Regions from separate parts of the Homo sapiens genome. Here all the other regions are linked to region 1. The links come from fine-mapping of genetic effects on gene expression. A gene starts in region 1. Each other region holds a variant in brackets. All regions are shown on one strand. Distances are from middle to middle. Region 1 holds the start of CSNK1E (casein kinase 1 epsilon). Region 2 overlaps TPTEP2-CSNK1E (TPTEP2-CSNK1E readthrough). Region 3 holds the start of TPTEP2-CSNK1E (TPTEP2-CSNK1E readthrough). Region 4 overlaps TPTEP2-CSNK1E (TPTEP2-CSNK1E readthrough).

What was found.
Region 2: its variant is fine-mapped to the expression of CSNK1E in fibroblasts (GTEx, PIP above 0.99).
Region 3: its variant is fine-mapped to the expression of CSNK1E in whole blood (TOPMed, PIP above 0.99).
Region 4: its variant is fine-mapped to the expression of CSNK1E in whole blood (TOPMed, PIP above 0.99).

What each region holds. Positions count from the first base shown.
Region 1 is chr22:38,314,529-38,321,904 of GRCh38, forward strand. CSNK1E (casein kinase 1 epsilon) reads right to left here and starts at 2,905. Exons shown (of 11, transcript NM_152221.3): 1 at 2,632-2,905. The region is part of intron 5 of TPTEP2-CSNK1E (TPTEP2-CSNK1E readthrough); the gene reads right to left. RefSeq lists enhancers at 174-233, 304-473, 494-543, 4,345-5,249 and a silencer at 2,233-2,622.
Region 2 is chr22:38,290,584-38,297,959 of GRCh38, forward strand. It overlaps TPTEP2-CSNK1E (TPTEP2-CSNK1E readthrough), which reads right to left. Exons shown (of 15, transcript NM_001289912.2): 12 at 3,759-3,951; 13 at 3,526-3,665; 14 at 2,672-2,736; 15 at 108-1,355. The coding sequence ends at 2,704. It overlaps CSNK1E (casein kinase 1 epsilon), which reads right to left. Exons shown (of 11, transcript NM_152221.3): 8 at 3,759-3,951; 9 at 3,526-3,665; 10 at 2,672-2,736; 11 at 108-1,355. The coding sequence ends at 2,704. Among named protein-coding and RNA genes, the nearest start is that of TMEM184B, 21 kb to the left of the region's middle. RefSeq lists an enhancer at 1-89. The variant T/A (reference allele first, on the strand shown) is at 3,395.
Region 3 is chr22:38,394,529-38,401,904 of GRCh38, forward strand. TPTEP2-CSNK1E (TPTEP2-CSNK1E readthrough) reads right to left here and starts at 4,387. Exons shown (of 15, transcript NM_001289912.2): 1 at 3,910-4,387. It also overlaps the pseudogene TPTEP2. RefSeq lists an enhancer at 3,116-3,899 and a silencer at 4,165-4,444. The variant G/A (reference allele first, on the strand shown) is at 4,483.
Region 4 is chr22:38,354,869-38,362,244 of GRCh38, forward strand. TPTEP2-CSNK1E (TPTEP2-CSNK1E readthrough) reads right to left here. Exons shown (of 15, transcript NM_001289912.2): 4 at 6,531-6,692. It also overlaps the pseudogene TPTEP2. Among named protein-coding and RNA genes, the nearest start is that of TPTEP2-CSNK1E, 40 kb to the right of the region's middle. The variant G/T (reference allele first, on the strand shown) is at 3,493.

The DNA of each region.
Region 1 (7,376 bases):
CCCTGCCCAGAGGCCAGACCTCGCCAGTGCCCAGCACGCCTTGCAGGAGAAAGTCGCATCCCCTACTGGGGGGAAGGCAGAAAAGAATGCCCTCGACCATCCACCTTCCAGCCACCTCCCCATCTCTACGTCATGACACCAAGACCTCACACGGAGGCCCATAGCCGCTTGGATAAACTGTTTGGAGCTGGCGTCCTTTAAGACTAGGAGGGTCTCCTAAGAGGGCCCTCATAGAACAACAAAGGGGACTGAGCCAGGGTTTTAGCCGCCTGCCCCGGATGGGTGGGAGGAGGAGTTCTGATGTGAGCAGCTTCTCTCCTTCCTCAGGGCCAGGGGGGAGCCCTCTGCTCTGGCCTGGGGCAGAGGAGGGACCCCTCTGCTCTGGCCTGGGGCAAAAGTCCGGACACCCTGTTCCTGGTCAGCAGAGGAGGAAACTGAAGGCCTGGAGGCAGTGCTGCCGTGGGGACAGGGACCAGGGACTGCAGTAAACAGGGGGAGGGGTGTTTACAAGAGGACCAGCATCAAGGACTAGCAAGAGGGAACTCCTTTCACAGACAGGGTACTCAGGCTCACAGAGGCCATGCCACCTGTCCCACACCACCCTGCAGATGGTACAGCCTCGCCGAGGACAGGGCTCCGGCTGTCCCACCTGGTGGTCTCCCACACTCACAAACAGGGCAAAACAGGAAGACTGCAGAGCAGCTGTGCTGGCACAGAAGATCAGCCCCTTGCCCGTGCCAAGTGCTGCCCCCAACAACCAGGCCAGCCTGGGAGGGAGATGGATTCCAGGGACAGTGGGCAGATCCCAGGAGAGACAGGGAACCCCGGCACCTGGCTCCCAAGGAGCTCACCAGCCCTCCACCAATAACCACGAGGCAGGGACCTCCACCAGAGCTGGCCAAACTCTGGGCTCTCAATCAAGGGCCGCTGCCCATATGCTTGGCCTGTCTCAGCTGAGGTGCCACGCTGCCAGGGGAACACAGTCCACGTTTGCAGGAAACCCACACGCCACACATCCCACGTACACACACGTCCAGCTTCCCGAGTGTGTACACTCCAACGGAAGAAAGAAAAGCAGGCACACACAGTGAGCCCTGTTGGGGGGTAAGGGGGGGTGTGCACGCAACCCCCCCCCAACACCTCAGTCCACTTTCTGCCAACACCAATTCAGAGACCACACATGGCAGCCAGGAAACCCGCAGGTTAGGAAAGGAACATAAATATACCCGCATCCTATATTACATAAATACCCACGCCGGGTTATATAAATACCCGTGCCCTCTGTCTGGGTGTCTTACATAAATATACTGCACATGACCCCCCAGTCTCTCCCCACTCACCGGCTGTCTGCAGAGAACGAGAGCGGGAAGGGGCAAGCCCTTCAGGACCCCCTGACTGCTATGTGCCAGCCACCCAGACCCCCAGTCGCTCCCCAACACCCCAGGGGTCCAAGGTCCCTGGGGGAGCCTAGACTGTCCCGGCACCAATACCCAAAAAGCCTCCCAGAGGAGAGCAGAAAAGCTTCATTCAGGAATGGAGAGGCTTTTCAGTTCTTTTGCTGCTTCTCCCATGGGGGAGGGGGGGAGATAAACAAAGTGGGGGGAAAAGTGGATATAAAGGTTCAAGAGTTTCAGCAGGTTAAAAAAATTAGACAAACTACCAACCAGCATGGCACACGGGCAGTGCTTCTTACTCCCCGAACACCATCGCCTACCCCTGAGCCGGGGCCCTTGTCCCTCGGACGATTAAAATAAAAATTGAAGGGACATCATAGAAACGAAGGCAAAGGAGACCCAAACACAGGCATTGCTTGGAAGCAACTTGAGACACTTGTGTCCCCTTCTCCTCTCTCCAAATCCTTCTCCAGGAAGGAGGCTATGCCAGGAAGAAAATATGCAAGAAAACTAAGGGAAAAGTTGGGGAGGGGGCTCACCCCACTTCGAGTTAGGGTATTAACAAGAGCTTGGGAATCCTCTAACGACACCCAGACACTGTTTTGCGTTCCTTAGAGACTTGCAAGACATCAATCTCTCACACAAAAATGGGAGAATCCGATCCGACAAATAACCCCCACCCCTTTCTTTCTCTCCACAAAGAAAAACAAATCAGTGGCCTGGTGACCACACACCTCTTCACCTTAGGACCCCCAAACGCCCGTCATCCAACGAGCGGGCGCAGCCTTGCGAACCCCCAGGTCCGGGCGCCGGGGCCGGGAGAGCAGGGGGCGCCGGTGATTGTCCGATGAAACGCTACGCGGGCCCGAATCAACAGTATCCGGCGCCCAGCACCCCAAGCCCCCTCCCTCAGCGTCCCCAAATCACAGCCGGGGTGGCCGCCTGGCCGGCCGGGGCCTCGGAGGGCCCAGCGGGGGGAAGCGGAGGCAGGCCGGCCGGGGGGCCTCCCCCGCGAGCCTGCAAAATAACAGGCCCCCTCCTCCTCGTCCCCAGCCGCGCCTTTGTCCTCGCCGGGCCGAGCGGGCGGCGCCCGGGCTGCCCCCCCTACACCCCAGCGCGAACGCGCGTGTGTCTGCCCTCCCTTCCCTCCCTCTCCAGCAAAAACAAAGAGGCTGAGGGAGCCCGATTCCCCCCAGGTTTGCACCCTTCCGCGGGCCCGCGGCCCCCCGATATTTACCCCGCCGGGAAGGCGCCGATGCCGGGCCACTGCTCGGGGGGCTGCCGCGGGCGGGGGCGGCCCGCCGGGGCGGATGCCGGAGGATTCGCGGAGCCGCCCGGCGCGCCAGCCTCTCCCGGCCCAGCCGCCGCCGCCGCCGCCGCCGCCGCGCTCCGCTCGGCCCCGGCCGGGCTCTGGCTCTGGGCTCTCGCCGCCGCCGCCGCCGCCGCCGCCGCCTCCCTCCTCCCGGCCTCCTGCCCGCCCGCCCGCCCCCGCCGCCGGCTCGCGCGCTCTCGCACCGCGCGCGCCCGCCGGCTCCCATTGAGCCCCGGGCCCGCCCGCTGATGTCATCCCCGGCCCGCCGCCGCCGCCCCGGAGGATTTAAAGGGCCCGCGCCCTCCGCGCTGGGGGCCGCAGCTGCGAGACGCAGTTCCCCAGCCTCAGTGCAGGCGCGCGGGCTTACGCGTGGGGGTGGGGGAGCACACAGATACTGACACCCTAATGCAGTCCAGGGCACAGGTGGAAAAGACGGGGTGCGGGGGGGACAGAGGGAAGAGGAGGGCGCACAAAAAGCGGAGGTGAGGGGATGGGAGGGGAGGGTCTAGACCCAAAGTCTCCTCTCCCCGCCTGCCAGGATCTCTCTCCTCTCCAGGCAGAGCACTGGGCCCCTGCGAAAACAGGCGGCTATTCACGACACTGCAAAAGATGTTAGACTGCTGGAGGCTCAGTCCGCCTCCAGGTTCCGAGTGCCGCAGAGAACACAGGCCAGGTTGATTCAGGGCAAGAGATTTGAGGAGACAGCTAGGGATGTCGACACAAGGCCCAGAAAGGTAGCCTGGGCTCATACATTCTCCTCCCGTGGAAAAACGAAGGGCAAAGACCTCTTCTTCTTTTCCCTGAAGCTCAAACTGTGATGGGCACAGAGAGGACCCCTCAGATCCCAACCTCATTCTCCCCTGTTGAAGGAGGGGTGCCACAAGTACCAAAGCACCGACACTTGAGTCTGGGCTCCGAGTGGTGCACGTTTAGCCAAGCCACCTCCCAGCTCTGAGCTTGGGTTTCCTTAAACAGCAAATGGGAGGAAGGACCCTGTCCTCCCCAGGTCACAGAATTAATAAAAGCTTCTACCGGCATGCAGAGCCGCGATGAAAGGTTGCAGAACAAAGTCATTAAAGTGATGATATTTACACTGAGCCATGCAAAGCTTCCAATTATGACACACCTATATTCACACAGTTGTGACTGTGGACACGCAAAATGCCTGAGGCCCTGCGTCCAATCCCGGAAGCACAGTTCCTGGGAGGAGTCACTTCTATAATAGCCGTATCTTCCCTCCTCGAGGCTGAGGGACTGAGTCACACACGTGTCCAAACGGGCAGGAGCCCCACAGACTAAGTCCTTTCGCCGGCCAGGAAACTGGCCCAGAGAGGGGAAGGGCTTTGCCCAGGACCACAAAGCCCAACAGGACAGCTCTGTTCTCCCAGCGATCACCAGGAAACTGGGTCTATCTAGAGCCCATTTCCAAGAGCAGGAGAGTGAGAAGCCTCCTCCCAGGAGGGCCTGCCTTCAGTGACACCTTTGCCAGAGCAGGGGGTCACCAGCCAGGTGGTGGGCTTTACTTGGCCTGCGCGGTGCTTTCTGTTGTTGTTTTGTTAATTAATCCCCAAAGTTTTTTTTTTTTTTTTTGCTTTTTGTTTTTGTTGGTTTTGAGATAGAGTCTCGCTGTGTGGCTCAGGCTGGAGTGCAGTGGCTCAATATCGGCTCACTGCAACCTCTGCCTCCTGGGTTCAAGTGATTCTCCAGCCTCAGCCTCCCTCCTGAATAGCTGGAATTACAGATGTGCACCACCACACCTGGCTAATTTTTGCCCAGGACCACACAGTATTTTTAGTAGAGACGGGGTTGGCCAGGCTGGGCTGGAACTCCTGACCTCAAGTGATCCGCCTGCCTCGGCCTCCCAAACTGCTGGGATTATAGGCGTGAGCCACCATGCCTGGCCACTCCCCAAAGTTTTAAAACTGGAAGATTTCATATTTCAGATCCAGATTCCCTGTTTCTCTGGGGGCATTAGGAGATCCGGTAACTCTGGGCCCAAGTTCTCAGCCGGCCTGAGCGCCACCCCACCGCCACCCATTTTGTTTCTTTCCTCACATGAGCCCAGGCAGAGAGGCCTGGGCACAATTGAGCAGGGGGTGAAGTCTGCCCCTGTGTCCTCCAGTCCTTACCACCCCTAACCTTCCAACCTGGGCCCTGCTTCCCAAAGCCCTCCTCTTCTTCAGCACTTTCAAGGCAACCAGCCCTGGGAGAGGAGGTTATTTGTTATCTCATTTAATCCTCTCAAACAACAACAGATTACACTGTATTCTTTCAGAGAAGGAATCAGGCTCCTCCCAGTGCTTGCCTAAGGGCACAGATCAACCTCTCCCTTAAACTGGGCCTGGCTGGAACAGACCCCCTGCCCCTTCCTAACCCAGCCAGATCGCCAGGTCTGACTGCAGCACGTTCACGTTCTCCCCTCTGCATTCAGGACTTGTAACCACACCTCCCACCCCAGCACCCCCACCCCACCCCCTGCCCCAGTTAAGATCCTGCTCAGTTCCCTGGGCCAGCCAGGCTGAGGAGCCCGGCTCATCCCCAGGCCTGCTAGGGAGCCTCCCTGCCTTGCCATTGGAAGGACATGCTGTTGTCCACTGCCTGAGTTGTGGGCCCAAGTCCTTGTCCTTCCTATCCCTGGAAGACCTGTGTGTGGGCCCTTCCAAAGAGCTTTGCAGTGAAGCTATAAGGGAAGGCAAACCATGACACAAAACCCAGCTGAGGAGGGGAGACTGGTCCAAAGTGAAAAACAAAACCTTACGTGTTCCAGCAGCCCCACAGCCTGACTTCTCTCTCCGACTTGGTTCACAGTGATTCCTCTCAGATTTAACTCCTAACTTTAAAACCCAACGGTGGGGCCGGGCACGCCCCTGTAATCCCAGCACTTCAGAGGCCAAGGCGGGTGATCACCTGAGGTCAGGAGTTCAAGACCAGCCTGGCCAACACGGTGAAACCCCGTTTCTACTAAAAATACAAAAAATTAGCTGGGCACGATGGCGGGCACCTGTAATCCCAGCCACTCGGGAGGCTGAGGCAGGAGAATCACTTGAACCCAGGAGGCGGAGGTTGCAGTGAGCCGAGATCGTACCATTGCACTCTAGCTTGGGCGACAGAGCGAGACTCCGTCTCAAAAAAATAAATAAAAAACAAAACAAAACAAAAAACCCAAGGGTGTGGCAAAGTTCCCCTAGCTACCTTCTCTGCAAGCCAACAAGAAGATGAAATCAGGCTAGAATAGGTGTGGGGTGAATTGCCAGCTCCCAAGGGGCCCACCCTGGGTTTCAGCTGCTCTGCATTGGTTCAGGAATAGTGGCTCTCACAACACCTTTCCAAACTGGCTTTTGTCTTTTTTTTAGAGGCTCATTCTGTCACCCAGGCTGGAGTGCAGTGGCAGGATCATACCTCGCTGTAGCCTCAAATTCCTGGGCTCAAGCGATCCTCCTGCCTCAGCCTTCCAAGTAGCTGGGACTACAGGCATGCACCACCACACCCAGCTAATTTTTAAATTTTTTATAGAGATGGGGTCTTACTGTGTTGCCCAGACTGGTCTGAAACTCCTGGGCTCAAGTGACCCTTCTGCCTCGCCCTCCCAAAGTGCTGTGATTACAAGTGTGAGCCACTGTGTTCCCAAACTGACATTTTTTACCTGCTCCCTATTTCAGACCCTTCAAGATCACTTGGCACGCAGGAGCACTGGGCTGGGATCCCAAGGACAGCCCTGGAATTCCCAGATAATGACGATATGGCTGCAGATAAACCCAGAAAGATTTCAGTACCTGCCCCAGGAATCTCAGTCTTGACTAAGGACTCATAGATTTACTAAACATCAAGGGCTGGCCTGAAAACGGCCCTCCAGGATCTGTCCTCCACTCCCCGCACCTGGCTCTCCTGACCTCAGCTCCTGTAAGTTTTCTTCTTGCTCACAGCCCTGTAGCCTCACTGGCCTCCCATGGAATGAACCTCTGGCCTCAGGGCCTTGGCAGGGGCTGTTTCCACTGCCTGGTGCGCTCTTCCCGCAGAGCACCAACCCCCCTCACCTCTCACCTTTCTCAAGTCCCCTTCAGAGGTAGGCCCTCCTGGTCTCCCAGTTTATTTATTTATTTATTTTTTGAGACAGAGTCTGGCTCTGTCTCCCAGGCTGGAATGCAGTGGCCCGATCTCGGCTCACTGCAACCTCCGCCTCCCGGGTTCAAGCAATTCTCCTGCCTCAGCCTCCAGAGTAGCTGGGATTACAGGCGTCCACCACCATACCTGGCTAATTTTTGTATTTTTAGTAGAGATGGAGGTGTCACCATGTTACCCAGGCTGGTCTTAAACTCCTGACCTCAGGTGATCCGTCCGCCTCAGCCTCCCAAAAAGCTGGGATTACAGGTGTGAGCCACCACGTCTGGGCCCAGTCTCCCAATTTAAAATCCTGGCGCTGGGCCACAGGCGGTGCCTCACACCTGTAATCCCAGAACTTTGGGAGGCAGAGGCAGGCGTTGCTTGAGCTCAGGAGTTTGAGACCAGCCTGGATAACATGGCGAAATGCTCTCTCTACAAAAAATACAAAAATTAGCTGAGCATGGTGGCTGGGTGTGGTGGTGCATGCCTGTAGTCCCAGCTACTTGGGAGGTTGAGGTGGGAGAATCACCGGAGCCCAAGGAGGTTGAGACTGCAGTGACCCTTGATCA
Region 2 (7,376 bases), 24 kb before region 1:
GGCGAGGGCTTGTTCCTCACTGACTCCTGCTGCTCCCAGCAAGACCCACTTCCGGGTCTGCAGGGAGAGGCCCTAAGGGCACAGAGGTGGACAAAGGGCTGCCTGCATCACTTTATCTTTTCTACTTTATTACTTCAAATTAACAACCACGATAAAGCTCAAAAAAGTCCAATATTTACACAGGAAAAAAGTACAAAATTCCCCCCAAAGTTCTTCAGTTTTTTTTTTTTCAGTTTTTTAAATTACAAAGTAATAAAAAGCTTTGCTCTTTAATTAAAAAAAAAAAGGAAAAAGGGGAAACAGAGGTAAATAAATTAGGAAAACACACACACGGAGAAAACAAACAAAAATAAAATAAAATAAAAACAAAAAGGTGTTAACTAGGAAGGATGGGTTAATCCAAAACCCAGCCCTGACTCCAGGCTCCTCCTCAGAAAGGTGGAACCAGGGAGAGGGGGGACCCCAGGTGACTGTCAGGACCAGGGAAGTAATTTATAACTCAGAGCCAGATGCCTTCTGGAAGCAGTCTCCATGGATTCTGCCCTAAAACCAGGAATGGAAGATGGAGCTGCCACCGGCTGATGACGGGCTAGGGGGGGACCGGTGGCAGCGAGGACCCTCTGAGCTCTGAGGGATGCGGAGGTCACCGCCCACCCCCATGTCCTTGTTAGTAGACACAGGAGAACGGGAATTCGGGCTGGCAGGCGGGGCGGGCCGTGGCACCTGCTGTCTTGGGAAACACAGGTCAATACATCCACACACACACACACACACACACACGCAGGGGACGCCGGCCCCCACCACCTCCCCACCCACTCCATGGAGAGGCAGAGGAGGAGCCTGGAGGCCAGGGGGACAATGGAAAAGCCCAGCACGGGAAGTCAGCCACTGTCATCTCAGAGTGGGTGGGGCTGTGCGTATCTCCTGGATTCTGAGGCTCGGAAAACTCGGTGGGAACTGCCTTCAACTGACTACACCACTCCCTGATGATGCTTGAGGGCCGGCTTTGGCTCTGGGACCTGTCACTTCTCCGACACGGACCCGACCCGTTCCTCTCCAGGCAGGTGGTGGGTGGGGGCAGGAACAGGAGGCCGGGCAGGCCCTGGCGTCTGGCTCCTGTAGCCTGGTGTTGTCAGGGGAGCATCTGGCAGCCTGAAGGTTGGGGGCAGCGGGCACCACAAGGGGGCAAGAATCCTCAGTGCTGAGGGCATCTCATCTTCTTGCCATTGGCAAAGAAATCAAAGAAACAAACTCCATCGTCGGTTTTGTGCTGGGTTTTTTTGTTGTTCTTTTGAGTGGTTTATTTTTGCCTTTTTTTTTTTTTTTTTTTTTTTAAAGAAAATACAGTGAAGACACTAGAAGGGAGAAGGGAAAAGACAGGTGAGGTACACAGCTGTCTCTGGCTACTTTTTTTTTTTTTTGAGATGGAGTCTCGCTCTGTCCCCCAGGCTGGAGTGCAGTGGCACGATCTCGGCTCACTGCAACCTCCACCTCCCAGATTCAAGCAATTCTCCTGTCTCAGCGTCCCGAGTAGCTGAGATTACAGGTGTGTGCCACCACACCCGGCTAATTTTTGTGTTTTTAGTAGAGATGGGTTTTCACCATGTTGGCCAGGCTGGTCTCGAACTCCTGACCTCAAGTGACCCACCTGTCTGGGCCTCCCGAAGTGCTGGGATTACAGGTGCGAGCCACTGCACTTGGCCCCCCAAACTCCTGTCTTCTCGTCCCTTGGTCTATCTCCCTCTGGGCCCCAGAGCCTGGCTCAAGGCCCAGCACGCTAGGAGATCCATCTTCATGTGACAGAAACGGATTCTCTCCCTTCTCTGCCCTCCTGGTGAGCATCTCCCCACCCCACCCCCAAATATCTGCCCAGCCCGCCATGGACAGCTTGGTTCCTGGGCCTGAGATCCGAGGAAGGCCAGCCCTGTTCATGCCTCCACTCTCTTGTGTGGATGAATTTCTACAAAACAGACCACACACAGATTGTCCCAGTGTAAAGTTGAGTCCCCCGACGTGTCGGACTACTGCCTACAAATGGACACACGTTCCCCAGAGAGCTCAGATTATACCCTCGAGAAGCCCAAAGAACCCCTGCCGCCTCCCCTTCCCCAAGCCAGGCCCCAGAGTGGGGCGTTTCCATACCCCGCCTCAAGGCCTGGTACAGTCCGGGAAGAACCAGCAGGCTCACGCTGGCCAGAGGGCCTCTCTCAGTCCTACTACAGAGGCATAAAAAGGGCTCCTTTGCTTCCTCCACAGCCCTGTTGTGAGTCTTGTGCAGGAATTAACTTGCGTAACAGCCCAGAGGCTGAGACAGGGCTAATGCCGTGGGAGAGGTCAGAGTGTGAGCCCATGGCCCCGTCTCTGCTGGGAACCAACCTTCCAAAATATGTTAAGGCAGAAGGAGATAGAGACCTGGCCGAGGGCAGAAAAAGTTTTTCCAGCAGAAACTAATCCATGAGGGGTCAGGCCTGAGCATAGAAACCCTTGGCCCCAAGTCAGGCAGCCTCCGAGGTTTTAAACTACTTGAGGCCCCTTAGAGTTCTGGGGCGCCTGGTACCATCTGCCACTGCCACTGCCACCCACCCCTCCACAACACATTGGTCTCTTTCTGGGGCCCTGGGAGCTTCTAGGTCGGCTGGGCTGGCTGCATCTGCAGCAGTCATGGACTCACCTAAGCAAACACTGGTCCAATGGGGGCTCTCCTCACTTCCCGAGATGGTCAAATGGCACACTTGTCTTTTGAGGGTGGGGAGGGAGAGAGGGGGAGGGAGAGAGAGGGAGGTACAAGCTTCAAGTCAAGTCCCTTAGCCGCTGGCGATAGAGATTTGGCAAGTCTCTCCCCACTGAGGAGGTGTACCCCCACCCCCACCTCCAGGCAGCCCCTCAAGCTGAGGGAAGGCCTGTGTGATTCCAGTGACTCTAAGATGTCCCTGTCTGTAGCTAAGAATGTTGCCCAGGGAGGCAAACCTGCTACCTAAGTAGATGGCCAATGAGGGTTCTCTCGCAGGACTCCCTCCTCGCCCACAGGCAGGAGGACGAGGGCAGGGCTCCCACCCACCTCTGCCAGGCCACCTGCCCTGGGCAACTACAGATTCCCCCTTCCCAAGTGTCCCCATCCAAACATAGCCCCAAAGAGGATGGGACCTCACTGCCCCTACACCCCATGCTCTTGCCAATGCTCACAGGGGCTCCTGGGGGCTCCCTGATGTCAGGGAGCAGCAACACCTCATCTCTGAGCCCCTGCTGCCCACCCTGGCTGGGCCCCTGGCAGCGAGGACTGGAGCCCAGCTGTGCCACTTGCCAGGGAATGTTACTGCCCTGAGCCTTGGTGAATGACTTTGCTCAAGAGGGCTCATCAGACCTCAGAGGATTAAATGAGGCCAAGTCCTGGCTC[T/A]ACAGAAGGGGTTCACTCCAAGGCAAGCAGCGTCGATGGAAAGGGAAGAACAGAGCCACGGCCTGACCTCCCACTGGGGGGTCTCTAACTCAGTTCTGAGGCCCAGAGGGACTGGCAGGGGGGCAGCTCACCTGTGAGGCTGGGATCCGGGAGACCTCTTGCCGCCCAGTGAGGTCTGAGGAGGAGACGTTGGCGGGCGCACCCCTGTGCAGCCTCATACTCACCTTCCTCTCCCGGTCGACCCGCGAGATCGCTCTGGGAGAAGTATTGCCTGGAGGGAGAGTGGGAAGCCACCCTCAGAGTAGGCACAAACAGAGCCCCCCACCCACCCTGAACCCAGCCCACTGCCTGAGTCCCTGCTCACCAGCCGGCTGGATGCGGGAGGCTGGCGTGGAAGCCACGGGCTCGGCGGCACTGCGGAGCCGGTTGGCAGTGGCCCCCGTGGGTGGGCCAGGGGGCAGGGCTCGGGTCGCGGACCCCCGTAGCTGCCCCATCCTCTCCTCGCGTTCGTGTTCTCGCCGCTCCCGGTCCACATCCTCGGGATTCCGGGCTGCACCCTGCAGGGATGCAAGAAAAGACACCAGTCAGCCCCAGAGGCCAGGGTGCTCTGGGCCCAGCAGCCCTGCAGGGCACAGAAGGGGAGGGAGGCCAGGTGGATATCTCAGAAACCTTCTGCTCCAGCCTCCCTGACAAGCGCGGGAAGCCAAGACCCACAATCACACAGCACAGAGACACGAAGCCACACAACCACCAGAGGAAGGAGAAAGCAGGAGTCTGGGGGCAGAGGGAGGTCAGTCTGCCCTGCTCTCCTGGGATGGAGCCAGAGAAAGGACAACTAATGCGCCCAGGATGATCAAGAGCACCTCTTGGCCCTCCTGACCTGGGGCTGGGCCTGCCCTGGCCCCCCTCTGTGTACCAAGAGCCCTTAACTACTCAAGGTTGCTAAACCGAGCAGGAAAGCTGTTTAGAGGCCTCTAGCAGACTGGCTAGGGGTGTCCAGAGGGGGAAAAGAACAGGCCCAGAGTCACAAAACTAGTGGAAGGCTGGGCTAGGACTCAGACCAGCTCTCCCGGTACCTAGCCAGGGGCTCTTCTCATCAGGGAGCTGTCCTTCCCCCTGCCGGGACCTGGCAATGGCTTCTGGCAGGTGCAGTGGAGGCCACAGCCAGGAGGCCCAGGGAACCCACAGACACCGCCTGCCTTGGGACAGAAGCTCAAGGGGAGCTGGAGAAGAAAATGGGGCCACGTTCCCCACGGAGGAAGAAGAGGCCCAGCAGGCAAAGCTGGAGCAGAAGGGGTACCCTAAGCCCCCAGGTGCCCTGCTGTCCAGCCACTGCCGCCCCTGGTGCAGGAGGAAGTGAGAAGGGGCCAGAGAAGAGCATATGTGGGGGCAGCGCCCGACTGCGTTACCTAGTTCATCCTGGGGCCGTCCACAGGGAAGGGCAGGGGGCTGGCAGGAAGGGGGCCGCATCTGTGGAGGAGAGAGCTCTGGGCTGAGTTGGGGGCCTGCTCATGGGCACAGGGTGTGGTTCCTGCAACCCATGTCTCTCCCAGGAGACTGGCCAAGAGGTGGGGGTGGGCCCTGTCTTTAAGCAACTCCAGGAAGTAGTGGCTAGGACCAGAATGATCCCTGAATCTTAGTGAGGCACCAAGGCCCAGAGAGGCCTTGTGACCTGCCCGGGGTTGCACAGCTCAGGGCAGAGCTAGGGTCTGAACCCAGGCCTCTGCCACCTAGTCCCACTCTGCTCTCTGCACCCCAAGAGGTCACTGTTCAGAGTCTTGCCTTAGAACACTCTAGAAGATGCATCTTCCCATCCTCCCACCCAGAAGCCTCTCAGGCAGGCCTGGGACCACCGGGGCTCTAACTCCTGACCTCCGGTCCTCACCCTGGGCTCCCACTCGGTTGCAGGCTGGCCAACAGTGACTCAGCCAGAGCCACAGCAAAGCCTGGGGAGGAACACGAGCTGTGGCACCTCCGTGCCGAACCTTCTGCGGGCAGAGTCACATCAACCCTGTGAGGCAGGTCAATCTCATTTCCATGCTTGGGATACAGAGGCTGAGTGACTCACTCCAAGGTGTGGAGCCCTGCAGCCAGCAGCCAAGCAGAGGGCTGGAGCCCCTGCCCTTTGTGAGCCCAGCAGGCTCAGGCCATTGCCAGCCCCGAGGCAAGAAGTGGGCGACTCTCCATGGTCCCATCCAACCCATAGGACGCAAGAAACACACAGCAGGGAGCTCTCTTGGCCTTTATTGCCCATAGAAAACATAAAAGGTCAGCAAAGTCACACGAGCATCCACCCGTCATCATATGGACCTCTGTCCTTGGCTGTGTTGAATTCCTTCCCGGCCAGCTGACTGGACCTCGGAACACAGTGGCTGTATGTGCTGAGAGTGGCTTCCAGGCCCCAGGGATCCACAGATCCCAGCACCCCGGTGCAGCCAACAACACAGGGTGTCCTGTCTACTGTTGGGTAGCATGGGAAGGGCCTGGCCTCAGGGTGAAGGTTCCCATTGCATGTTTTCCAGGTGCTTCTGCCAGGGGACTGCTGGAGGTGGTTCAGCTCACTACAGTGGCCGTGGCATTGAGTCAGAGATTGGCAAAGGATAAGGCTGTGGGTGCCTCTGCCCAGCTTCTAACTCCAGGGCCTGCCTCAAGAGGGACTTCCAGGAAGGCGGTCAGACCAGCAGCAGTGGGTGGAGAGGTGCTCCTGGCCTGGTTGGAAAAGAGATCTTGCTGGCTAGACAGTCTTGTGAGACTCCATAAGGGAGGAACCTAGAGCAGTGATGTCCACAGAACGTTCTGGATGAAGGAAATGGTCCCATCTGCCTTGCCGGATGTGGTGGCCACTGGAGGGCAGTGGCATGATCTCAGCTCACTCCAATCTCTGCCTCCTGGGTTCAAGCGATTCTCCTGCCTCAGCCTCCCAAGCAGCTGGGATTACAGGAACACACCACCATGCCCAGCTAATTTTTGTGTTTTTAGTAGAAATGGGTTTCACCATGTTGGCCAGGCTGGTCTTAAACTCCTGACCTCAAGTCATCCGCCCTCTATGGCCTCCCAAAGTGCTGGGATTACAGGCATGAGCCACCAGGCCTGGCCGACATTTCCAGTCTTGATTAATTTTAATTCATTAAAAATGTGTCGCATGTGGCCAATGGCTACCATCTTGGACAGTGTCCGTCTAGAGAATACAAAATCCATTCTTGCAGTTGTGCTGAGCTGGAGGGCCAAGCCCATCACGAACCAGACGTGGGAGTGACTATCTCGATAAGAAAGTGCCCAGTGCCCAATGCCCTGTGGTGGAAAGAGCTGGTCCCAGGTGCTCAAGGCCATGGGCCCCATTTGGAGCCAGAAGGTCTAGGGTGAAGTCAGAGAAGACGTCCCCTGCCCATATCCCATTTCCAGCCTTGCTGAAAAGGGCAACAGAGGCCTCTCCCTGAGGTCCCTAGCCTGCGAGACCCCCATTCTCTGCCTGACCTCTGTGTTACTCCTTAGTGAACAAGAAACCCAGAGAGAAGAGAAGCCCAAGACCAATGTGCCGACCTTGGCTTCCAGGAGAACAGAGCCTTGGTCCTAACCATCTAGCAGGGTGGCTGAGGGCCCTGCCATGAAAGAGGCACACCAGGATGAAGCAAGAGGAGGTGTTTAATGAGTTCTGGTTCAACACAGAGGCCGCCAACGGGGTCTAGCTATGAGTCTGTCCTGGGACCCGTTCCCACCAGGCCCCTTGTGGGCAGTGGCCACCATCCCTCCCTCAGGCTGTCCTGGCCCTCAAGGACCCCATGGCAGGGCCTTTTCCACCATGGCCTCCACTGTGCTGCCATCTCTTGGGAACAGGGGGTCATCCCATCCTCCCAAGAAACACTTCCTCAGGCCTGGCCCCGATGGGCTCAGGCACACCTGGCGACATCAGAAATGGGGCCCTGGAGTCCAGACCACAGGCCAGTAGTTTTGGGGGGACAGCTCCTCCACCTCCTCCACCGGC
Region 3 (7,376 bases), 80 kb after region 1:
AATACTCAGTTTATGCAACTGTCTCATGTTTTTCATTCCTACTTTCTAATTCTAAGGCTTGAAAACAGCCATTGCTCAGTCCTTCAGCTTCACCTTCCCAATTCATTCATTAAACATTCTGCTCAGGGATTAAACTGAAATGGGAAATTAGGAAAGAACCATTTAAAACAAATCATACCCAGCAACCTCAAAATCTATAACATACAGGCCATATGGGCATACAGGAAATGGGACAATTTGAATTTTTTTTTTTAAGCAAATGGAAACAAAGCTTCATATAAAACATAAAAAGGGTCCAATCATTTACTTTCAAATAGAGTCAGCTAAAAGTAGCTCCTTTTTTAAAGTGGCATCTTTCAGGCAGTCAAGAGTCATTAAAACTACTCCAAAGTTCTTATCAACCAATATCATGTTTGTGACAACTGTGAGAAAAGAATGTAATTTTATAAAGTGGGAAAACAGCACATCTTTTGGGACCCCTGAGGCTCTAATCAGGCATCTCAGAATTAAGAGTGCTCCAGGGTTGGGAAATGGCTACCCTGCTGTGGCGAAAACATGCCATTTCATAATAAACGTTGTTAAGAGAGAAAAAAGTGATAAGCATGTACCTGCAATGAGGAGATAGAACGACTTAGTCATTGCCAGGCCATTATATTCCTTAATTATTTCATCAGTCTATAAGTGACTTGATGATTAAGTCTTATTTTCAGATTTCCTCCAAAACAAGTCCACTGGAAGGGGATTAGGGGCTCCTACTCCTCCCTGAACTTTTCCTGCCAAAAATGGAGGCTCACAAAGAAAATGCAAATCTACCCCCACCTTAAAAAAGTAAAGGCAGTCAAAGTCAAAACCTTCACTGCTCCTCCTTCCTCCCCTACTACGTGGAAAAAAATTTTGACCTGTTACCAAAATAGATTCCTCAGGGTAAAGGGGAGAAAAGTTTTCTACAAATTTTTTCTAAGTGGTGTATTAGTTCCTTTTTTTGAGTAAGAAGTGAAAGGGAATAGGAACCCAACACAACTGCTAAACTTCGATCTCACAAGTTATTAAAAAACAGCAAAGGTCAAACTGCAAAGCGTTAGAAAAATGTGAAGACAAAAGGATTAAAAGAGTGGGACACTAAAGAAAAAAGTGTGTGTCCTTCACCAATAAAAGTCGTATCTTGTCCTCTACTTCCTCCTTCTGTAGGCAAATAAAGACAATTCTAAAGGACTAGCTTTCCTCATCATGCCAAATAATTAAAATTCCAAACAGATTATTAATCCTATTCTAACAATTAAAATAAATGATAAATCTGCCTTGTAACTACTGACAACTGTATTTTAAATAACTTACGGCCTCTTGAATTTAAATATAACCGATTAAAAATGGCAGCAACATCAGGGTTAAGAAACAAAATGAAACACTATTAGTCTCCAGAATATTGAACAAAACAATATCTAAAATAAATATGACTTCTCAGAAGGAAAAAAGTTATCTACCATTAAGGACATACCTTAAAAGTTCTTAGCACACATTAAGTAAGCACAAACTAGTGGCTTGCCTGTTATATTTTCAGACAAAAAGCAATGAGGTTATTCCTCTGCACTTGTCACTGCAGACACATAAAGGCTTTTAGAAACTACATCTATTACTCATTGTCTAAGTATCATAAAACTTAGCATTTTAAGTCTTGTTTGATATCAATCAAGAAAGAACATCCACTTCAGGGGAAAGAAGTACAGTAAAATAAGAACATTGTAAATGTCCCTCTTGACATATACAAAAGAGAAGGTAAAAGGCCTCCTAAGACCCCTACCTAGTGGCCAGGCCTGGACGGCAGCTGTTGCTACCTCACCTTTTCTTTTGTTGAGCTTAATCTCATGTCAAGTCATTCAACCAACTCAAAAGCGATGAAGACATTATTGAATCAATCTGAACTAAATCAGACCTAGGCTTCTTAAAACATACAGCTTAATGCTTCCAAACGATCTAGAAAACTAAGAAACCTAGCTACGCTGTAGGACACACTTTCATATGCGTCCGTGTGAAGAGACCACCAAACAGGCTTTGTGTGAGCAACATGGCTGTTTATTTCACCTGGGTGCAGGCGGGCTGAGTCCGAAAAGAGTCAGCAAAGGGAGATGGGGTGGGGCCATTTTATAGGATTTGGGAAGGTAATGGAAAATTACAGTCAAAGGGGGTTGTTCTCTGGTGGGCAGGGGTGGATCTCACAAAGTACATTCTCAAGGGTGGGGAGAATTACAAACAACCTTCTTAAGGGTTGGGGTCACGGCACCAAATTTCATACACGTCCGTGTGAAGAGACCACCAAACAAGCTTTGTGTGAGCAATGGCCTGGCCTGGGCTCAGAGGCCTGACACACACAGTGGCCAATTATACAGGACCCCCAAACTGGCCAGTGGACCACTGCAACCGCCATTTACTTTCTCCGCTGCAAGCACCATAGGCTGATTCAGGAAGATAAACTGAGGCTCAAGGAATTTCGAAGTGGAACAATACACCAAAGCCTTAAACCTGAAATGACTATCCTTTTCTGGGGGGTGGGGGGGAAAGAAAAAGAAAAAAAAGTTTCTGGGGCTCTCAGGGTGGCCCAGATGCCAGGGTCCCAGAAGTGGCCTTTTCTAGCTCCTGTAACTAAACCTGGCGGAAAACTCCCCGCCTGCTCACCCCATCCGCCCAAGAATGCGCCTTCCCGTCTTCGGTGGCCCTACCCAGAATCCCAAAATGTGGATTCCAACCCAGGCCCTGAACGTCTTCTCAAATCCCCGGGACTTACGTTGCGGCGCGCGCCCCGCTGTCGGGTCTTGCCCCTCGGGCGGTACCGCCCAGGCAGCCCTAAATCCAGCCTCCCAGGCCCCCAGCAGCGCCCTCCGCCCCTCCACCATCCCGTCCGGCTCGCAGTCGGGGCCAAATCGAGAGACAAGAGGGCTGTGCCTGAAACTGAGCGGTTTCACCACTTGGCACCTCCTGGCAGAAACTTCCCTTTAAAAAAAGAAAAGAAAAAAAAAAAAAGCAGCAGCACTTTTGGGCTAGCATTTCAATCCTTCCTGCCCTTTAGAGTTCCCAGTTCTGCTTCCAGCTGCCTTTGGGTGTTCCACTACAATTGAGTTGTAAAGATATTCTTTAAGTGTTTATAGAACATTAAGACTTAAGAAAAATCTTTAAAATTAGAGGAGGGAAAAAAAAGCCACCTTATCGCACACATCCAGGAAACGCAGCCCCGTGCATCCCTGCTCAGGGATAAGCAGGCGCCCCAGGACTCCCGGGGACAGATTTTTGGGCACCCGAGGGAGTCACCCGGCGCACCTCGGGGTCCGCGGAGAGGCCCAGCCCCTCCCGCGGTCCCTTAGACGCGCCCTCCGCCTGGCCCGTGTGGACCGTCCCGGCCATTGTTTACGGGGGAAGCCTGTCCCGACGCATTGTTTTGGCCATTTCCAACTTCCCCCGGCCCTTCCCGGGGTATCGCGGGGGACCCTACGCCAACGTCCCCCCTCCGCCCGCGCCCCAAGGGCCGACTGGGCAAATTGGGAGACCCGCCCCGCGGGGCGACCCAACTTTTCGGAACAGCCCCCCACCGCCCACCCCCGCAGACCCCCGGACCCCCGCTCCCGGCGGAGATTCAGGGAACCCCGCACCCCAAGCCCTTCTGAATCGTGCGGCGTGAGTGTGACGGCCAAGAGCGGATGCAGCCCGGGATCGCCCGCACCTTCCCGCCAGCGGAAGCGCAGGAGCCGGCTGGGGAGGGGGCGCCCTAGAAAGAGCAGCTAGAAAGCTGAGACGGGGAACTGAGGTCATCCTGGGGGGGGACAAGACAACGAGAGCCGGGCGCCTCGGGGGCGGCGCGGGAGCCTCCGCAGGACCAGGCGGGCGCCCCGGCTGGCGCGGGCGGGGGGCGCCCCCCTTTACCTGTGGCTCCGGCCCCTCGGCCATTTCCTCGCGCGGCGGCTGCCGGGACTGAGCTGACTCCACTCGGGCCGGCCGGGTTTGAAAGAGGAGGAGCGGGCGCGGAGGGGAGGGGGCGGGGAGGGCGGAGGGAGGGAGGCCTCGCGCAGTTTTCTCGGCCTTTTGTGCGGACACCTCCCGGATTCCGCGCCCGCACCCGGCCCCCCAAAAGACACGGGGAGCCGCAAGCGAGGGGTGCAGCCATCTGCCGAGGCGCCTAGTGCCTTCGCGCCTCCAAGACCCCCAACAAAAAAGGAGCGTCCCGCACCCCCACCCCCGCCCGGAGGATTTAGGGGCCGGGCTCACCTCGGGCGCGGGGCTAAGTGCAGGCGCGGGGGGGGTCCCTAGAGCCGCCAGGGCGCGGCGCGTCCGGCGCTGGGGGACTGTTGGGTCAGAAAGTGTTCAGGGAGCAGCTGCTGCGCCCTCCCTCGGCCCGCCGCTCGGAGACGCCCCGCCCCGCCCCACCCCGCCCCCGCGCCCACGTGACTAGCATAGGCCCGCCCCCGCTCCGCCCCCCGCCACAGACTCCGCCTCCGG[G/A]ACGCGAGCGAGCGGCGAGCGCGCGCACTCCCAGTTATCGCTCGGCGACTCCCGCGCACGCACGCGCCGTGCCACCCTCCCCGCGCCCCCCGCCCCATACCCCTACTCCCGCCATCCGATTTAACGTGGCGGGCGAGCGCCGCGGCGGTAGCCGTGACAGGTACCCGGCGGGGGGGGCGGGGGGGGCCGCGAGGGTGTGCGCAGGCGCAGACCCGGGTCCCGTCCCCGCCGCCCCCTCCTCTGCAAGGTGTGCCCGGGCGAGGGGAGGGGCCCGCGGCCCGAACTCCTGGGTCACCCCGAATTACAAACAAAACCTTAACGCCGTTGCTCGCGGGTTAGAAGGCAGCTGTGCGCGAAAAACACCTCAGATTTTCTTCAAGCGTGAGGAAGGTCGAGAAGATAAAGTTTTTAAATGAGTATCTTCAGAAAGCTATTTAATTGTTCTGATTTTTTTTTTTCTGAAAGGACTGGGCTTGCGCTATTCTAACTTGAGATTTCTAAACTTAGACTAGGTTCCAAGAATCTACTTGGTTTTGATAGAAATCCATTTGGAGGAAACCGGGGACAAAAAAAAACAAAAAACCGCTACCCTTTCCCCTCCTCCCTACGCACAACTCATTTAAATCGTTTCCCAACTGTTTTTTTTTTCTTACTGAAAAAAAGGACAAAAAAAATCCTGATTCCTAAGGCCTGTGATATTTCCCCATTTTAAGTAAGCCTCGAGGAACCACAGACATAACAAACATATCCACAATTTTTCTACCCCAAAATGCAAACTAATGCAAATGTGAAATGGATCTATGCAAGTCGCTACCAACAAAATAGCCAAATATTTGTTTTTTTACTGGCCTTCGGCATATCCAAAATGAAAAAACTTTAAAACACATCAAGAAAAGCATTTAAAATATCTATTTCCTAAATCAAAAGAAAGAACGCACTACAGAAACGATCCGGAGCTGGTGAGCAATGCAATCTTAATAAATAGGAAAAGGAATTTGAGAAGACAGCTCAGCAAAGGGGAAGAATTTGCCAAGTGTCATGTTTTGCTGTCATTTTATATATAACTACTAACCCCCCATATGGTCTGGTTAGTCTTTTTTAAAAAGGAAGCCAATCAATTACTCACAATTAATTAGCAGTGCCGGTAGATTCTTAGGCCAGCACTAAAAAACTAAATTGGGTGAATTTTTTTTCACTCAAGTCCACTGATATTGATCACTTTTAGTATTAGGAGTCCTTTTCTGACAAAAGATGAATACCTATCTTTAAAATATATTTTTTAATCTTATTGTCACATTCTAAAACACAGTCCAAAAACACTTCATAAACAAGAAACTTCATTTAACTTTATGAAAACAAATGACTATGAGCCTTGCTACACAACAAAGAAACTATGAACAAGTGCAACCAGGTTGAGCCTTTAAGTGTAGCCTCATTCTACATGTTAATGGATAACCTTTGAACTCTGAGAACTTGAATGCTGTAAACACAATAGCACTGACAGTTAAAAATTCCAGTGTCAAAATCGAGCAAAAAGAAAAGTCCAAACTTTTCAGGGGGAATAGGGAAACAATCAAATATTTTGACAAATAATCGTTTCAGTAAGAACAAGGAGATTCCTGGCTCTCAGACCTTGTTGCTACTGAATTATTTTCTGAGCAAAAACGGTTGTGCTTGTTTTCCCCCTGTGCCCTCCAAAGCTACCACTTTGTTCACATTATAGCATCATGATTTGTTACTGTTTCGCTGCCTCCCTCAAAAAAAAAAAAGTGCCTTATTATGTTGTAGCTTTTAAAATTGAAAGATGATTATATTCACTGATCTATCCGCTAAGAGTTTTATTTATATGTGATCCTCCTTATGTTTGAGCAAAGAATTACAAAGAACCTTGTCCTGGAGTCGTGCCAACGAAACTGGGAAATCGTTGCAAAATTCTGCCAGTGACTGACTGCTGGGTTGCAAATACATACTGTGTTTTCAGAAGAACATAGAGGGATCTGAATTCGTCCGGGAGGGCTTCCCTGAGACACATTCTTCCCTTAGAATGTGAGACTCATACCTCCCATTTATTTGGAAAGCATGTATAGTTCAAACAATTAAAATATGGAAACTCCAAAAGTAACAGGAGAACACTGCAAACATTTGGTTTTGTAATAAAAGCTAGAAACTCATAACTGCATGAAGTGAAAATTGAAAATCGAACGTTGGTCTTCCTATGCTTAGCTCCACCCACAAGAAATCCAGCTTTGCCATCACTCCCTTCCTAGGCCATCTCTAAAGGAGTCAGGTGCTACTAGATGCCAGCAAAAAAAACAAAGAATGGAACCAAAAGAGAAGCTCTGCACATGGTACTTGGAGAAGGGGCAGAAAAGCCCCACTTCACCTTGGTTCAATGCAGCAAACATCAGCTACACCTCATTTTTCACAATTGTCCAAACAGCTCAGGCAGAGCTGACGAGGAGGGTCAGCACCTTCTGCCACCTCCTGCTGCTGAGCTGTGCACCTGTCCCGCAGTTAACTTTCTCTGAGCTGAGTCAACCTGAGCCCACCTGTGGGGAGCCCAAAGCTTGGTGGAGACAGATGCCAGCTGGGGCCCTTTGTTGGGAGAAGCTAAAGGACCTGGTGACTGCATGTGGGGGCAAGAAAAGGAAGACTCCAAGGGTTTGCTCAGGACTCTGGCCCAGGAAATGGGGGACTGTGGGACTGGAAGGGGCCTGGTGGGGAGCAGCAGGGGGTGCTGAGCTTGTTTGGCACCCTCTGAGCTGGAGAAGTGTGTGGAGGCTGGGAGAGGGGCCCAGAGGGACTGGAGGTATAGACAAGACATGCTCCCAGCTTCCCTGGGTCGCAGGCCAGGCACTATTTGATAGATGAGATCATCGAGTTCCAGGGAGGAA
Region 4 (7,376 bases), 40 kb after region 1:
ATTCTATAATTTTAATACAATAGTTTAGAGGTGGGCACTGGAGACAACAAAGGTGACAGTGGAGTGACAAGATCTGAAGCCAGCACTAGAAAGCCTCTACATCCCGCTAATCAGCAGGTGAGGCTGGGCCAGGAGCCTCTCATTCTTTTTTTTTTTTTTTTGAGACAGAGTCTCCCTCTGTCTCCCAGGCTGGAGTGCAGTGGCGCCATCTTGGCTCAGTGCAACCTCCGCCTCCTGGGTTCAAGTGATTCTCCTGCCTCAGCCTCCCGAGTAGCTGGGACTACAGGCGCGTGTCACCACACCCAGCTAATTTTTGTATTTTTGTATTTTTAGTAGAGACAGGGTTTCACCATGTTGGCCAGGATGGTCTTGATCTCTTGATCTCGTGATCTGCCCACGTCAGCCTCCGAAAGTGCTGGGATTACAGGCATGAGCCACTGCGCCCGGCCAGGAGCCTCTCATTCTATGGACTGAAGTCACATATTCAATCCAGCGGGGATATTCTGAGCCCCGCCATGTGCTGGTGCCTGTACCTGCTATATCTCCTCTTTGGTGGGGAGACAAGCCCCCAGCCCAGGCAGGGTCCCCACCAGGCTGGACATAGACCCATTCTGGGTGAATGTGAGGGGAAGAAATTGAGCGTGCCCGGTGGTGGCGGAGCCAGGAACAGGAAGGCCTGGAGCCAGCCTGCGCTCCGCCCATCCAGCAGAGTCTCCACTTGGTGTGGATTTGAAAGTGATCTAACACGTCGTCCTCTCTTGTCACCCAGGCTGGAGGGCAATGGTGCGAACTCGGCTCACTGTAACCACTGCCTCCCAAGTTTAAGCGATTCTCCTGTCTCAGCCTCCCAAGTAGCTGGGATTACAGGCGCCTGCCACTATGCCCAGCTGACTTTTGTATTTTTAGTAGAGACGGGGTTTCACCATGTTGGCCAGGCTGGTCTTGAACTGCTGACCTCAGGTGATCCACCCACCTCGGCCTCCCAAAGTGCTGGGATTATAGGCGTGAACCACCGTGCCTAGCTCCTGACTCTGAATTTATATGCTCCTGATAAGCCATCATTTTCTTACACTTATTCACACATGAGTGCTTAACAATAGAAAAAATGACATACCATTAGTACAGTTAAAAAAAAAAAGTGTTCAGAGAAACTAAGCAGCACAGCAGCGGCATCAGAATCCCTGTGTCAGCTGTTGAACAGTGGAAACACACAGCGGCAGGCGTTCAGTCTCCTGGGATGCTGTGTTTTCATTAAAAGTTTACTGTACACCACATTTTATTTTTTCTTAGGCAAGAAGAAACATCAGAAGCAGCTGAGGGACCAGGAAGCGGGTCCGTTAAGGCTAAGGAGACATTCTGCCGGCCGGCTTTTAAAAATGTTTCCTATGGGCCTGGCGCGGTGGCTCACACCTGTCATCCCAGCACTTTGGGAGGCAGAGGCGGGCGGATCACTAGGTTAAGAGATTGAGAACATCCTGACCAACATGGTGAAACCCCGTCTCTACTAAAAATACAAAAATTAGCCGGGCGTGGTGATGCATGCCTGTAGTCCCAGCTACTCGGGAGGCTGAGGCAGGAGAATCGCTTGAACCTGGGACTCAGAGGTTGCAGTGAGCTGAGATCATACCACTGCACTCCAGCCTGGGCGACTGAGCTGCACTCTGTCTCAAAAAAAAAAAAAAAAAAAAAAAGTTCCCTATGGAGTCATCTGCCTTATTAACAATGGTTTTTGTCTTAGATGACTCCCTGACCTCATCTTCATGTTGTATACCTGCATTTTCACTGCAAACCTGTCACAGAAGGTCGGGTGTGGAATTTTCCACTTTTGGCATCATGTTGGCACTCAAAAAATTTCACATTTTGGAGCATTTCAGAATTTTTGGATTAAGGGTGCTCAGCCTGTAGTCAGATATAGTTGCATAGAGTGAAGGCATTATCCAAATAGATTTTTCAGTGATTGTGCTTTTTAAAAAGCAGACACATTTACATAACAATGAAGAAGTGGAAATCCTTTGCATCTTTAACCAGTCTCTTACTCTCATTCTCCTTCCCTCTTTTATAATCTTCCGTTTCAACTTAGGAAACTTATATTTCTCTATGCCAACTTTGTGAAACCATGCAGAATGGCTGTATCCAAAATTGCATGACAACAAAAAATTGTGAAAATGTCTGTCAAATCCAGTTGTTTAATTCTTTTAAAACTATGAGTATGAAATTATTGTTATTCTACCACTTACTGTTTTGAAAAGAGTTCAAGGTTTTAGCTAGGTTATTTAATTGATGTTAAATCTGAGGGAGTTCCAAAAATGTGAAGAAAAAAAGAACACATAATTGTCCGAAGATTTAAGATCCTGAAATGTGATTCAGTAAACATAGTCATCTGTAGTTTCAACTTGGAAATTAAAAATGAGAAGATAACTCTTATCCTGTTTTGAGGAAAAAAAAAAGCCTATATTTAAAGGTTAATCTACATGTTCACAGAGTAATTAAGATTGTATTAAAATGTCTTTGTTTCTATTTAAAGTTTGTTATTCTATAACACAGTAGTTGCTTTTTTCTATAAGATCTTCAAGGCTGAGGACCCAGGCTCATGCCTGTAATCCCAGCACTTTGGGAGGCCAAGGCGGGCAGATCACTTGAGGTCAGGAGTTCAAGACCAGCCTGGCCGACACAGTGAAACCCCATCTCTACTAAAAATACAAAAAATTAGCTGGGCGTGGTGGTTCATGCCTGTAATCCCAGATACTTGGGAGGCTGAGGCAGGAGAATCACTTGAACCTGGTAGCTGGAGGTTGCAGTGAGCCGAGATTGTGCCATTACACTCCAGCCTGGGCTACAGGAGCAAAACTCAGTCTCAAAAGAAAAAAAAACCTTCAAGATAACAGTTTAATTTTAAAACAGTTGTTTAATGAAAAAAGGAAGGTTAGGGACTAGAGAATTTTTGAAACAATAATTATGATAGGAATATCAGTAACAAAATGTTTCTGAAGCTATAAATGTAAGCTAAAAATATAAACATCATTGACTAAATCCAGTCTTTGATTAGAACTAGTTTTTTCTCTATTAAGGCTCTTATTTTCTACTAGCACTAACTTGTACTCAACCCTTAGTACATATTCTCTCACTTTTTAGTAACCATTGTTATGATAAATTGAAAAGCCATTCAAATAAAATTTTGTGTGAATTAATCTGTTTGCCAGAGTGAAAAGAGTAGTAACAATAGGTAAACAGAACACTTGTGGCTCTAAGTCAGGGACTTAAAGTGGTGCGCTTAGCGGATAACGCTTCTGGTCACCTACAGTTTGTTTCTGAAAACTGAAAGGAGTTTCAGTGGTGATAGCTGGGATCACAGGCGACCGCCACCATGACCGACGAATTTTTTGTATTTTTAGTAGAGACGCGGTTTCACCATATTGGCCAGGCTGGTCTTGAACTCCTGACCTCCAGTAAACCACCCGCCTCTGCCTCCCAAAGTGCTGGGATTATAGGAGT[G/T]AGACACCACTTCCAGCCTACATGTGTCTTTATGGGAGAAGAGTGTTTCCTGTAGGCAACAGAGCAATGGGTCTTTTTATTTTATTTTATTTATTTATTTATTTATTTATTTTTGAGCTGGAGTCTTGCTCTGTCACCAGACTGGAGTGCAGTGGCACCATCTCGGCTCACTGCAACCTCTGCCTCCCGGGTTCAAGTGATTCTCCTGCCTCAGCCTCCTGAGTAGCTGGGACTACAGGTGCGCACCACCACACCCTGCTAATTTTTGTATTTTTAGTAGAGACAGGGTTTCACCATGTTTGCCAGGATGGTCTCTAGCTCTTGACCTCATGATCTGCCTGCCTTGGCCTCCCAAACTGCTGGGATTACAGGCGTGAGCCACCACACCTGGATGGGTCTTGTTCTTTCATCCATTCATCCACTCTATCTTTTGATTGAAAAGTTTAGTCTACTGACACTCAATGTTATTATTGATAAGTAAGGACTTACTCCTGCCATTTTGTTATTTGTTTTCTGGTTGTTTTGGGGTCTTCTCTTCCTTCTTTCATTCCTGTCTTTCATTAGTGAAGGTAATTTTCTCTGGTGATATGATTTAGTTTCTTGTTTTTTATTTTTCGTGTATCCATTGTTATGTTTTTTGGTTTGAGGTTACCATGAGGCTTGTAAATACTATCTTATAATCCATTATTTTAATCTTATAAGTTTTCATAAACAAGTAAAAAGAAAACTAATAAAAACTCTACAACTTAACTTTGTCTCCCTATTTTTTAACTTTTTGTTATTTCTATCTTATTATACCATCTATGTCTTGAAAAGTTGTAGTTAATATTTTTGATTGGCTCATAGTTTAGTCTACTTAGAGTAAGAGTAGTTTATACATCATAGTTACAGTGTTATAACATTCTGCATTTTTCTGTATACCTACTATTACCAGTGAGTTTTATACCTTCAGGTTGTTACTTATTGCTCATTAATGTCCTTATCTTTCTGATTGAAATACTCCCTTTAGCATTTCTTCTAGGACAGGTCTGGTGTTGACAAAATCCCTCAGCTTTTGTGTGGAAAAGTGTTTATTTCCCCTTCACTTTGAAGGATATTTTCACTGGATACACTGTTCTAGGGTAAATGTTTTTTTCCTTCAGCACTTTCAATATGTCATGCCACTCTCTCCTGGCCTGAAACGTTTCTACTAAAGAGTCTGCTGCCAGATATATTGTAGCTCCATTGTATATTATTGGTTTCTTTTCTCTTGCTGCTTTTAAGATCCTTTCTTTATCCTTGATCTTTGGGACTGTGATTATTAAATCCCTTGAGGTAGTCTTCTTTGAGTTACATCTGCTCGGTGTTTTATAACTTTCTTGTACTTGGATATTGATATCTTTCTGTAGGTTTGGGACGTTCCGTTACTATCCCTTTGAATACACTTTCTACACTCCCCACCTCCTCTTTAAGGCCAATACCACTTAGATTTGTCCTTTTGAGGCTATTTTCTAGATCCTGTAGGCATGCGTCATTGTTTTTTATTCTTTCCTTTGTCTCCTCTATGTATTTTGAAATAGCCTGTCTTCAAGCTCATTAATTCTTTCTTCTGGTTTATCAATTCTGCTATTAAAAGACTCTAATGCATTCTTTGGCATGCCAATTACATTTTTTGGCTCCAGAATTTCTGCTTGATTCTTTTAAATTATTTCCATCTCTTTGTTAAACTTATCTAATAGAATTATGAATTCCTTCCCTGTGTTATCTTGAATTTCTTTGAGTTTCCTCAACACAGCTATTTTGATTTCTTTGTCTGAAAGGTCACATATCTCTGTTTCTACAGGATTGGCCCCTGGTGTCTTATTTAGTTCATTTGGTGAGGTCATGTTTTCCTGGATAGTGTTGATGCTAGCAGATGTTCTTTGGTGTCTGGGCATTGAAGAGTTAGGTATTGATTGTAGTTTTCACTGTATTTATTGTAGTTTTCACTGTCAGGGCTTGTTTGTACCCATCTTTCTTGGGAAGGCTTTCCAGATACTTGAAAGAACTTGGATACTGTGATCTAATCTCTATCTGCTTTAGGGGGCACCCCAAGCCTCCTAAACTCTGGTTCTTGCAGACTCATAGCGGTACTGCCTTAATGGTCTTGGACAAGATCCAGGATAATTCTCTGCATTACCAAAAAGAGACTCTTGTTTTCTTCCCTTACTTTCTCCCAAACAAACAGAGTCTCTCTCTCTGTTCTGAGGCACCTAAAGCTTGGGGTTGAGTGACATAAGCACCTCTGTGGCCACCACTACTGTGACTGCATTGGGTCAGACCTGAGGCCAGCACAGCACGGGGTCTTGCCCAAGACCTGCTGTAACCACTCCTTAGCTATTGCATGAGTTTGCTGAAGGCCCTGGGGCTCTACAGTCATCACATGGTAAAAACAGCCAGGCCTGTGTCCTTCCCTTCAGGATGGCAAGTTCTCCTAGCCTCCAGGTGGATCCAAAGGTGCTGTCTGGGAATCAGGGCCTAGATCAAAAACTGTAAAAGTCTACGTAGTGTTTTATTGTGCTATGGCTGAGCTGTCACTCAAACCACAAGATGCAGTCCCTCCCACTATTTCCACCCCTGTCCAAAGACAGAGGAGCATCAATCCAGGGCCACCTCAAACACAGGCCATGGGGAGGTACTGCCAGACTACCACCAATGTTCTCATAAGGCCCAAAGGCTCTTAAGTCAGTTTGCAGTGAATGCTCCTGTTAATTATTTTTAAATGCTTTTTTTTTTTTTTCTTTTGAGACGGAGTCTCACCCTGTCACCCAGGCTAGAGTGCAATGGCATGATCTCGGCTCAATGCAACTTCTGCCTCCCAGGTTCAAATGATTCTCCTGCCTCAGCCTCCCAAGCAGCTGGGATTACAGGCAACCACCACCACACCCAGCTAATTTTTGTATTTTTAGTAGAGACGGGGTTTCACCATGTTGGCCAGGATTGTCTCGAACTCCTGACCTTGGGATCCTCCCACCTCAGCCTCCCAAAGTGGTTCTTATTATAAAAATAATCAAACTTACCCTTCTACAAATACTCGAAGAAGAACATCCATGAGAAAAAATAAGGCAATAGCTAGAGAAATAGAACGATACTCCAAAGGAATATAAAGTTTGCTGTCAGTGAAAATTAGGTCGGCAAGGACGAGAGTGACATCCAGTAAGACGAGGAAAACTCCAAATAGTCTAAAATAAATAAATAAATAAATAAATAAATAAATAAATAAATAAATAAATAAATGCAAAGATAAAGGGGCATTTGTCCCTATAGCTATACTATATTTAAGCCACTGATCAGGTACCAAAATGTTATTATTTAGTATTAAGCTGCCCAGTGGCAGGAAAAACTGTAATGCCTTAGAATCTCAGAAAAATCACTGTTTTCACCCAATAGAAGCAGTTCTTAATAAACAAAATTCTCACCAAACCACTTCAGAAGATATTATCATGGCCTTTTATAGTAGACACATCAGACCAACACCTCAAGAGAGAAAAAGTAAAACTGAATTAAAATCACCTGTGTCTGTTTACAAACTCTTCTTAAAATGTGAGAATTTCATAAGAAGTTTATACCAACTTCTCATAAAAAATAAACCCTCATTAATCTGGATAATTCTAAAGAATTTATTAATAAAAACCAAATGAAAGCATGAGTAACATAAGCTCTTAAAAGACCAAGATTTTTCATCAGTGACATTTTCAACAAGTCCATGATTTCATCTTTATGGGTGCTTCGAGCAGAGTGATGGGCACATGAGTCTTGAACTCTAAAGTACCTCCTGCCACTTGCTGTTACATATTCCAAATACATTCTCCATAAATTGATTCGACTATTTGCCTAATCTATGAAGGTGAATTAGTCTTTGAAGT